Linked DNA regions of Homo sapiens. The protein of the gene in region 2 interacts with the protein of the main gene of each other region in a pairwise test. Each region holds a gene or a part of one and is shown on either strand. Other genes may lie near its edges.

Region 1 (7,293 bases), on a different chromosome or scaffold from region 2:
TTTTGTTTTTTTTGGTTTTTTTTGAGACGGAGTCTCAGTCTGTCGCCCAGGCTGGCGTGCAGTGGCGCAATCTCAGCTCACTGCAAGCTCCGCTTCCCGGGGTTCACGCCATTCTCCTGCTTCAGCCTCCCGAGTAGCTGGGACTACAGGCGCCCGCCACTGCGCCCGGCTAATTTTTTTGTATTTTAGTAGAGACGGGGTTTCGCCGTGGTCTCGATCTCCTGACCTCGTGATCCGCCTGCCTCGGCCTTGCAAAGTGCTGGAATTACAGGTGTGAGCCACCGCGCCTGGCCTTGCTCTTGTTTTAGTAGAGACGGGGTTTCTCCATGTTGGTCAAGCTGGTCTTGAACTCCCGACCTCAGATGATCTGTCTGCCTCGGCCTCCCAAAGTGTTGGGATTACAGGCATGAGCCACCGCACCAAGCCATTTTTTCTTAAGCTTTAAGATTTATTTATTTTCGAGACAGGGTCTCACTCTGTCTCCCAGGCTGGAGTACAGTGGTGAAATCACTGCTCATTGCAACCTCGACCTCCCGGGCTCAGGTGATCCTCCCACCTCAGCCTCCGGAGTAGCCTGGACCACGGATGAAGGCCACCACACCGGGCTAATTTTTGTTTTTTTTTTTGTTTGTTTTTTTTGTAGAGATGAGGTCTCTCCATGTTGCCCAGGCTGGTCTCCTACTCCTGGGCTCAAGTGATTCACTGGCCTTGGCCTCCCAAGGTCCTGAGATTACAGGCTATTGCACCTGGCCAAAAAGCTTTGAGTTTTTAGTCTATGAAGAAAATATCTTAAATACATTGAGCTGAGGGTAAAAAGAAAGGCATATGTACTCATGCTAGCCATTAAAAATGTTATTAATCGAGTATGGATCTGTCTGTAACCTGATAAAAGTAATTTGACTAGCCTAAAATTGTTACTTTAAAATAATTGCCAGAAGATGTCAGTTGCCAGAGCTAACTGAGTCAGGGTTTGGTGTGGGGATAGGAAAGGAAAGGGGGTTACTTTTAAAATCTTCTAGGCTACTTGTCAGAATTTGGTTAATATAATTTTATTGTAAATATCTGCTCAGATGATAAAAACTGTTTTTGAAGTTTTGGCGTTATTTTGTTATACCTTTGCCCTTGATAATATCTAGAGCCAAATTCAATTAGATAAATTGTAATCTGGTGTTTAAATTAAATTTAAAATCACACCTGAAACCATATTTAGACTGCACTGGAATTCATCAAAAGCAGAACCTCAGAGCTGTTATTTCACACCAAGAAGATAGCTAAAATTCTGTGAACAATAGTTGTTCTCCATATTAATTTGAATGCTTTTTTCTTGATTTTGGGGAATATTTCTCTGGAAGTTTATCATATATCAACAGGACACTTCTGTCAGTTGGAATTGGAGTCACTTTTTTCCTTTCCCCCTCCATGAGATAACTGGTTTCTAGTTCACCAAATTAGATTACAAGGCTTTATTATGATAAAAATTAAATAATGATTGAAGTAGGCTTAGAGAAAAGTTATGTTAATAAATATAAATTGCTCTCAGATTTAAGGGTACCTAATCAGTTATTAGGCCATGTGCAAATTACATGTGGGAAAAAGCTAGAACATTTTTGAAATGTATTAAAAGGGATCTCCTCACTTAAATACCTTGCTTTTAGCCAGTGAGATACAGAATTGCTATGATTTCTCATTGGTATCACCTTTGTTTTAGTTTTTTACAGGCTGGTGGATTATCATAGATGCAGCTGTTATTTATCCCACCATGAAAGATTTCAACCACTCATACCATGCCTGTGGTGTTATAGCAACCATAGCCTTCCTAATGTAAGTGTCATCGTAATTGGCATTACTTACATAGCTTGCCACAAAATAAAAATGTTTCAAATATAGTTGCATAGATTTAAAATTCTAAATATTATCAGATTAACACACTGGACATGATTTAAAAGTCACACAGTAGAGATGGACTTATACAGAAAAGCAGCAGTCCTCTTTATTCTTTTTGTGTACCTCTCCACTCCCTCCCAGCTTCTCTCAGCTATTCTTTTATTTTATACCCCCAGGGTTTATAGCTTTATATTTAAGTCCGAAACTGTGTATTTTGTCTAAGGGATAATTCTTTCAACAATATTTATTAAGCTTTTATATTCCAGACTCTGCTCTAGGTACAGGACATATAGTAGTTAGTAAAACAGGAAAAATCCATGTCTTTTTGTCATTTAAAATAAGTGCAAAGGAGAAAAAATAGAGAAAGGAGATATGTGCAAATAAGTGCAAAGGAGAAAGGGATGTCAATAGGAGGGATAGAAATTAAAAAATTTTTTTTTTTATAGAGAGGGTGTCTCATTATGTTGCTCAGGTTGGTCTCCTGGGCTCAAGTGATCCTCCCACCTCGACCTCCCAAAGTGCCAGGATTACAGGTGTGAGCCACCACACGTGGCCAGAAATTTTCAGCAGAGTCAGAGAAGGTCTCACTAAGAAGGTGACTTTGAGTAAAGACTTGAAGAAAGTGAAGGAGCTGACCAGGGGATGGGGATATATAAGAGAGGTTCATTCCAGGCAGGTGAAACAGCAAGTACAAAGGCTTTACGGCAAGGAGACCAGTATAACTGCAGTAGCAAGATCAAGGGAAAGAGAAATTGATGAGGTCAAAGAAGTGGTGGAGAGGGACAGATGGTATAGGGCCTTGAGAAGCATTATAAGAACTTTACTTTCAGCTGGATGCAGTGACTCATGCCTGTAATTCCAGCACTTTGGGATACCGAGGTGGGTGGATCACTTGAGCTCAGGAATTTGAGACCAGCCTGGGCAACATGGTGAAACCTCATCTCTACCAAAATACAAAAATTGGTAGGGCATGCCTGTGGTCCCAGCTGCTCCGGAGGCTGAGGCGGGAGGATTGCCAGAGCCTGGGAAGTCAAGTCGATGTTACAGTGAGTCATGATTGTGCCACTGCACTTCAGTCTGGGTAACAGAGCAAGACCCCATCACAAAAATAAGAACTTTACTTTCATTGTAAGTGTAATGGAAGCCATTGGAAGGTTTCGAGCAGAGGAATGAAATGACCTTATATTTTAATAGGAGCATTCCTGTTGAAAAATTTTTAAAACCGGTAAACAAAATTTATTGCAGTGCCAAATAGTATAAGCACCATGACTCTGTGCTTCTCAAATTTATCAATGTATTTTGAAAATATTCTTGTATTCTTACCAGTTTCTCAAATTCATAAAATCGTTTAGTTTGCTTCATACTTGGGCTGTGACTTTGTTATTTAGTATTGTTTTTTCCTATAGTTTTTTTTTTCTTCTTTAATTAAGACGAGGTCTCACCTTGTTTGCCAGGCTGGTCTTGAACTCCTGGGCTCAAGCGATCCACCTGCCTTGGCCTCTCAAAGTGCTAGGATTATAGGTGTGAGCCACTGTGCCCGACCTTTCCTAGAGTTTCTGATTGTTTTTTTTTGTTTTTTGTTTTTTGTTTTTTTTTGGTGGTTGTTGGTAGAAAGAATGTATATTTTCTTTAGGATTCATTTTATTCTTCTTGAATGCTGCAGTTCTAATTTGGACAGTTACTATGTGGAATGTAGTAGCCTTGTTCAGTTTTTTGTTTTTCCTAGAGTTTCTAGCTGCCTTTTCTTTGTTTTCTTGCATTTTCTACTATTATCACATCTTTATTTTTTTCCCAAATTCTCAATTATATTCTTTAATGTATTATAACTTCTTTTGTTTTAGAAATCAACATCCCAGAAGCCCGTATCTGTCTGTTTCATTATGAATTAATGACTGTGTAAGCCTGCTGCAGCACTGTCACCATGGGACTTCCCTCCCCTGTTGATCAGGGTTGAATCCACTGTTTTTCCAGTTACCACATCTTCTTTTTTTTTTTTTTTTTTTTGGATACAAGAAGTATTTACTTTGGCCGGGCATGGTGGCTCACGCCTGTAATCCCAACACTTTGGGAGGCCAAGGCGGGCAGACCACCTGAGGTGAGGAATTTGAGACCAGCCTGGCCAACGTGGTGAAACCCCATCTCTACTAAAAATAATTTAAAAAGGCTGGGCGCAATGGCTCACGCCTGTAATCCCAGCACTTTGGGAGGCCGAGGCAGGCAGATCACGAAGTCAGGAGATCGAGACCATCCTGGCTAACACAGTGAAACCCTGTCTCTACTAAAAATACAAAACATTAGCCGGCTATAGTGGCACGTGACTGTGGTCCCAGCTACTCGGGAGGCTGAGGCAGGAGAATCGCTTGAACCCAGGAGGCGGAGGTTGCAGTGAGCAGAGATCATGCCACTACACTCCAGCCTGGGCGACAGAGTGAGACTCTGTCTCAAAAACTAAAAAATAAATTAGCCAGGCACGGTGTTGCGTGCCTGTAGTCCCAGCTACTCGGGAGCCTGAGGCACAAGAATCACTTGAACCTGGGCAGCAGAGGTTGCTGTGAGCCGAGATCACACCACTGCACTCCAGCCTGGGCGACAGAGGGAGACTCCGTCTCAATAAATTTAAAAGAAAAAAGTATTTATTTTAGTTTGTTTATTTATTTATTTTTTTTTTTGAGATGGAGTTTTGCTCTGTCGCCCAGGCTGGAGTGCAATGGCATGATCTCTGCTCACTGCAACCTCCACCTCCCAGGCTCAATTGATTCTCCTGCATCAGCCTCCCCAAGTAGCTGGGATTACAGGCACACACCACCATGCCTGGCTGGTGTTTGTATTTTCTGTAGAGACGGGTTTCACCATGTTGGCCAGGCTGGTCTTGAACTCCTGACCTCAAGTGATCCACCTGTCTCGGCCTCCCAAAGTGCTGGGATTACAGGCGTGAGCCACCACACCCGGCCGATATGTTTTCTTAGAATTCTCATCTCTTTATCTTTTTATTTTATGTTCCAATCTGTTAAACATTTTTGCATTTCAGTTCTCATGTTTTAATTTCTAAGGGCCTTTGTTTCCTTAATTATGAATGCTTCCTTTAGGGATCAACTCTCTCTGTGGGCCTTTCTTTTTTTTCTTTTCTTTTCTTTTCATGTTAGACGTGTAAGGTGCTGATGTAAGAACAAGGTTTGAGGGAGGCACATCTCAAACATGCACATGAACACCCAATCATCGTGCCTAAGAACTACAAAAGAATCAGGTTTTCCTTTTAAATTAAAAAAAAAATGTTTTAGAAGTAGGGCCTCGCTTGTCACCCAGGCTGGAGTGCAAATGGTGTGATCATAACACACTACTGTCTCAAAATCCTGGGCTTAAGCAGTCCTCTGGCCTCAGCCTCCCCAGTAGCTAGGACTACTTGCACATACCACCACACCCAGCTATTTTTTAAACAGTTTTTTTGTAAAGACAGGATCTCACTATGTTGCCCAGGCTGTTCTTGAACTCCTGGTCTCAAGTGATTCTCCTGCCTTGGCCTCCGAGAGTGCTGCATGATAGGTGTGAGTCACTGTGCTCTCTGCCTTTATTATTTTAAAAATGTAATATAAAATGCATTCTGGCCAGGCATGGTGGCTCACACTTGTAATCCCAGCACTTTGGGAGGCCAAAGTGGGCGGATCACTTGAGGTCAGGAGTTCAAGACCAGCCTGGCCAACATGGTGAAACCCTGTCTCTACAAAAAAATACAAAAATCAGCCGGGCATGGTGGTGCATGCCTGTGGTCCCAGCTACTGAGGAGGCTGAGGTGGGGAATCACTTGAATCTGAGAGGCAGAGATTACAGTGAGCCAAGATCACGGCACTGGATTCCAGCCCAGGAGACAGAGTGAGACTCTGTCTCAAAACAAACAAACAAACAAAAAACGCATTTAGTGAGATACATAAAGTGCACAAGTCATATATACATCTCAACAAATTTTTCTTATATATACACCCATGTAAACAGCATCTAGATCAAGATTTAAAACATCACCCCAGAACATTCTCAATCAGCACTTCCATCACACCTGTATAGCCCCCATCCTGACCTCTACCATTGTCCATCAGCTTTCTGTAGACCTTTTTTTTTTTCTTTTGAGATAGGCTCTTGCTCTGTTGCCCAGGCTGGAGTGCAGTGGCATGATCTCGGTTCACTGCAACCTCTGCCTCCTGAATTCAAGCAATTTTCCTGCCTCAGCCTCCTGAGTAACTGGGATTACAGACGCCCACCACTGTGCCCAGCTAATTTTTGTATTTTTAGTAGAGGAAGGGTTTCACCATGTTGGCCAGGCTGGTCTCGAACTCCTGACCTCTCAGGTGATCCACCTGCCTTGGCCTCCCAAAGTGCTGGGATGACAAGCGTGAGCCACCATGCCCGGCCTTCTGTAGACTTTTAATTTAGGTTGTAGAGTCATCTCATACAGGCTTCCAGGTAATCCAAGTTGAAAATTACACACATTTTTAAATTTTGCTACAGTTACTTAAGTGTAAACACAGTAACTTGTATTTTCAGAGTAAAGCAAGTGGCTAAGGGCAGCCAGTTTGACTGTGCCTGGCATGGAGTCAGTGCCAGAGTAGTTATTCATTCGCAGAAGTAAAGGTCTGACTTCAGAAGCCACTGATAGCAAAGGGCTGTGGTCTTTTTCTTTGAAGTTCAGCCAGTATGCAGCTATTTCTAGTTCTTTCCATCTTGTTGCAATTTATTTTACCGTAATAATGATGCTGTTAGAATTCTTTTAGAAAGCTGACACCTAAATTTCAACATTGGTTTAGATTTAAAAGTTTTATTTTTGTGATTGTATTTTTGTCCTGCTTTTGTTCTCAGATCTTTAAAAAATTATTTTGTTCCATTTTGAAGCAGTAGCAAGTCTGACTATGGAGGGGAATTATAGCTGTATATGAGCTTGAATGTACTATTCAAACGTGTTTCCTGCTAAACTTACATTCTGTTGCATTAACATAATTATAGCAGAGCTGACTTCATGTCTTTATAAATGTTTATCATCTATTTGGCTTCAGTTTACATCTTTTTATTATAGTGTCAGATAGTGTCAGGCCATAATTTTAAACAAAAACTGTTAGTTAATTATAATTCAAATGGATAGGAGTCAAAAAGCAGCTATTCTTTCATTAATGACTTTATTATTTTTTCTCTTATTACAAAAGTTCTCTGATTTTGTGGCTTTAAAAATATTAATAAATGTTCTGTGTATTACTCTGTATTTTTTAATTTTAAAAATGTAGGGTAGGCCGGGCACGGTGGCTCACGCCTGTAATCCCAGCACTTTGGGAGGCCGAGGTGGAAGGATCTCGAGGTCAGGAGATCGAGACCATCCTGGCCAACATGATGAAGCCCCGTCTCTACTAAAATACAAAAAATTAGCTGGGT
Region 2 (4,395 bases):
GCATCATTTGGGCAAGAACTCACTCATACAACAGACACGCAGCTCCCCCACACAGCATGTGGGTCCACCATGAACAAGTGCCATTGACCGATGCCAAGAAAGAGGACTTTGGAGGCAGAAGACCTGGTCTCCAGGCCTGGCTCCTCCTCCATTCGTTGAGGGCCCTTGGGTAGGTTACTTAACCCAAGTCTCAGTTCTCTCATCTACAAAACGGGTTGTCATGAAGGATGGTGCAGGGTCAGCATGAGACTCCCTTGAGATAATGAATGTGAAGCCTCTGTGAGATGGACAGCATGATGCAAATATTTCTTTTTTTTTTTTTTTTTTTTTTGAGACGGAGTCTCGCTCTGTCGCCCAGGCTGGAGTGCAGTGGCACGATCTCGGCTCACTGCAACCTCCGCCTCCCGGGTTCATGCCATTTTCCTGCCTCAGCCTCCCGAGTAGCTGGGACTACAGGCACCCGCCACCACGCCCGGCTAATTTTTTGTATTTTTAGTAGAGATGGGGTTTCATCGTGTTAGCCAAGATTGTCTCGATCTCCTGACCTCGTGATTCGCCCGCCTCGGCCTCCCGAAGTGCTGGGATTACAGGCGTGAGCCACCATGCCCGGTGACACAAATATTTCTTAAGCTACATGTTCACTAGCTTGACATGTACCTGGGACCTACCATCCCCTGCCACAGACTCCCTACAGCTGACAGGCCTCATGCCAAATGCTTTGAAGGCCCCCTTGCAGGGCACAGTACCAGGTGGCAGATCCACACACATTTACACATTGCATACTGTATAAATATAGGTTTTATTAATAATGGGTGAAATCCCACAAATACAACTGGCATCCCTGTGTGATAGGAAGAATCTGTGGCAGGGTGAGAGGAGGTAGACAGGGATGTGTACAGGAAAAAGGGGGAAAATGAGCCCTGGGGGAGGGGAAATCAGAAGCAGAATGAGCCTGGACCCACCAGGAAAGCCAGACATGCTCTGAGTGTGTCTGCCACCTGGTGCCCAGGGCAGGCTGTTCTGATGCCCAGGGGCCACCTGCTGATAGGAACAGTGGAGGGACATGGACAGAAGTTTGAATGAGCAGCAGTGGCTGGGGAAGGGGTAGGGGAGTGAAGATGCCAGCATGGAGCACAAAAGGAGGGCCGTGGGTGGCAGTGGCCAAGGCCAACTTATGCCCGTGGTTGTGCTTGTGTTGGTTCCTGAACTCCAGGGATCTAGTGCCCTGTGCCACCCCTGGCTTGGGAGGAGGGAAGACTTGGGGGTAGACACCTGCAGTTCCTGTAGACACCCTGGGCAGCACCAGCCTTATCCTTAGAGTCTCCAACATGGGATCCCCAGGAGGAGGTTGGCACTGTCCTCCCACCAGCACCCGCCACCACCAGCATGCCACCATCACTCTTCCTCTGTGCTGTAGGGGATGGCAAGTGTGTAGGGCTGAGATGGCCTGTTCTCATGTATGTGCCTGTCACTCCGGAGAGGGAGGGAGCATCACGAGACCGTGCATGCGTTAGGGGCAGCGAGAAAGGAGGGTTGGGTCTTCCCCCACTCACCCCCCGCCCAGAATAAAGTGCATTCTCCAGTTCCAGTGGCAGGTGGGAGAGAAACACAGACATTATTGCACAGGTGCCACCAGGCCCTGCCCCCACCAAAGGTGATGGGGAGGGGGATGGGGCATCCCACAGCCCCAGGCCTCTCCAATCCCCAGGATTGGGAGTGGTGACCTAGACAGAAAACCCAGCTTCTGTCCTGGCAGATTGTCCAAGTCAGCCAGGGTCTAGGGGTGGAGAGAAGAGGAGGAGGAGGAAGAGACTTCCAGAGTCCTTCCCTGTCCATTTCAACATCCATAATGGGACTTCCAGTGGACTCCACCAGGGCCCAGCCCTGGAACTCCAACCTTATAGCAGCCCAGTTTACAAACACTTGTGTGGTGGGGACCCCCAGAGGGGGCCACTTTGGTCAGTTGTAAGTGGGGCCCTAGAGAGCCTAGGGCTCCCAGGCAGACAGCAGAGGAGGGTGCCATGGGCAGGAAGGAGGCAGCAGCCTCCCAGTAGTCTTTGCATGCAGGTGTTGGAGAGAGTAGGGAGGAAGCTACAAACCGCATCAACTTGGGAAGACTCCTGGGCATAGTGGGGAGGGCTGGAGCCCCCACTCCCAGAGCCCAGGCTGGGAGCGCAGTCCGACAGCCAGCCTGTGGAGGAGCCAAGGGAGGAGAGGATAGCCCCGCCAGGAACCAGTGCCCAAGTCTATAAGGTTAAAACAGTCCCAAAGGGCTGGGACTGGGGGCTTCCTGCTGCAGGGGCTGGGGTACAGGCTGGGGCAAGCCTCTATCTCTCTGACTTGACCCGGTAACGCAGCACAAGGTAGGCCAGCAGCCGCAGGGCTAGGAAGAAGATGCCCAAGACCAGGAAGTCCATGTAGAGCTTGGCATCCTCCACATCCAGCGCTCGGAGGATGCTCTGTGGCTCCCGGAACGGGCAGCGTTCCTCTAAACATGTCAGGTCTCCTCGCTCCATGCCATAGATCGTCAGGATCACACCCTCAAAGCCATACCTAGGCAGGCAGGGATATCAGATGGGATACAGCACACAGGGTCCCTGCTCTCTGAGAAAACTGCCAGAGCCCAGCTGCAATGCTGTCATCCCTGGGGTGCAGCCAGGGTGCCCCTGCCCAAAGGATAATGGGGCAGGCAGCAGACTTGGCACAACCCAGGAAGCCCTGGGTATGGACTCCTCCAGGGAGGAGCAGAGGCCAACGAGGAGGGCAGGGGTACTGACCTGACATAGGAGAGATAGGAGCTCCATTGCAGGTAAGTGGGGATGGTCTTGAAGCTGACAAAGAAGCCGGAGAACAAGAGGACAGGGATGGCGGTAACTGGGCCCACAAAAGTGGCCACCTAGAGGGGAAGGGAGGGGGCCAGGCCATCATAGGGGTGACCAGGACAAACCCAGGTTTCCTAGAGCTCCACCCTAACCCTTGCACCAGGCCCTGCTTCCTCCCACAAGACCTCATCCCGCCTTGGGAATTCCCAACTGCCAGCCCTCCCACCTGTAGGGAGTTGGAAGCAGCTCCGATCAGCAGCCCCAAAGATTGGGCCACCAAGGCGGTGGCGGTGGCCAGGGCTGAGAAGAGCAGGAAGCGGCTGGTCTCAGCGGGCTGGCCCGTCATCCAGTACACAATGCTGCAGTAGACCACCGGACACACCACCTGGGGAGTGGGCACGGGCTGGACAGTGGACTTCAAGCCAGGGGCACAGCAGCCAAGACCTCCACTCCACCCAAGGCTGGGCCTCTAGAATACCTATTCCCAGGGTGTCCATCCTGCCTCCACATTCTTGTTCAAGCTGTCCCCCAGATTGACACACGTCCCCTTCCTCCCTGGCCATATGACCATCACTTATCTCGTCTCACGTCTTCCGTTTGGTCCACCCTGACTGCTTCAGGCACGGTGACTCTTCCCTTCCCTGAGCGCCTAAAGTCCTTCCCACCTGGACCAGCTTATTCGTTATATTGTTAAGTAATTAACTCTCCATAGGAGAGCCATTTTGTTCCCCCATGAGCTACCAACTCCTAGGGGGCAGGGTCTGAGCTTACTAAGTACAGTCATCCACTGCTCAAGGGCATCCAACCAAGAGCCAACCAGGCCAAAGGTCCAGCTTGTGCTCTTCTTATTAAGCCAAGCATCCTGTGACGGTGTCCACCCTGAGGAAGGGGCACCTTTTTCTAACTTGCACAGATGTGCCCTATGGATTACTGGTGGCCCTGATGCTTGGAACAGGGTGGTATTGGCGGTAACAACAACCAGCTAACATTTGCTGGGCACTTCGTATGTGCCAAGCACTATTCTAAGTACTTTATATACATTAACTCATTCAATTCTAACAATCCTGAGGTAGATACTATTGTCATTCCATTTTATAGATGGGTACACTTTAGCAAAGAGAGTGATTTGCCCAAGATCTTGCAGGTAGCAAGTGGCAGTAAGAGCCAGAGAGTACACCATTTTCTACTGCCCCTAATAAGAGTTACAGAGTCATTTGTAGGGTTATTGCCCCCAGTAGCTGGGACTACAGGTGCACAACACCAAGCCTGGTTAATTTTTGTATTTTTAGTAGAGATGGGATTTCGCCATGTTGCCCAGGCTGGTGTCAAACTCCTGAGCTCAAGTGATCCTCCAGCCTCGGCTTCCCAAAGTGCTGGGATTACAGGCGCAAGCCACTGCGCCTGGCCCTATAGGGTTATTTTCATCATTTTCTGTTTGTTGTCAGTTGTCCTCACTAAAACATAAGTTCCACATGGTCAAGACTACATCAGTCTAGTTCAATGCTATATCCCTAGGGCCTGGTACAGAGCCTGGGCTATGACAGGTACTCACCATCTATTTGCTAAGTGAGTA

Evidence for each region.
Region 1: the proteins of ABCG4 (region 2) and TMEM50A interact in binary tests that used the Homo sapiens proteins (3 or more experiments, as listed by UniProt).

The regions. Positions count from the first base shown.
Region 1 is NC_000001.11:25,341,253-25,348,545, forward strand, and holds part of TMEM50A (transmembrane protein 50A), read left to right. Parts: intron 1-1,708; coding exon 1,709-1,821; intron 1,822-5,021; exon of another isoform or gene 5,022-5,125; intron 5,126-7,293.
Region 2 is NC_000011.10:119,159,039-119,163,433, reverse strand, and holds the end of ABCG4 (ATP-binding cassette sub-family G member 4), read right to left. Parts: intron 3,208-4,395; coding exon 3,049-3,207; intron 2,897-3,048; coding exon 2,778-2,896; intron 2,554-2,777; coding exon 2,328-2,553; 3' UTR 781-2,327; downstream 1-780. UniProt on the Homo sapiens protein: ATP-dependent transporter of the ATP-binding cassette (ABC) family that may be involved in the cellular efflux of sterols, in particular cholesterol and desmosterol (a cholesterol precursor), to high-density lipoprotein (HDL).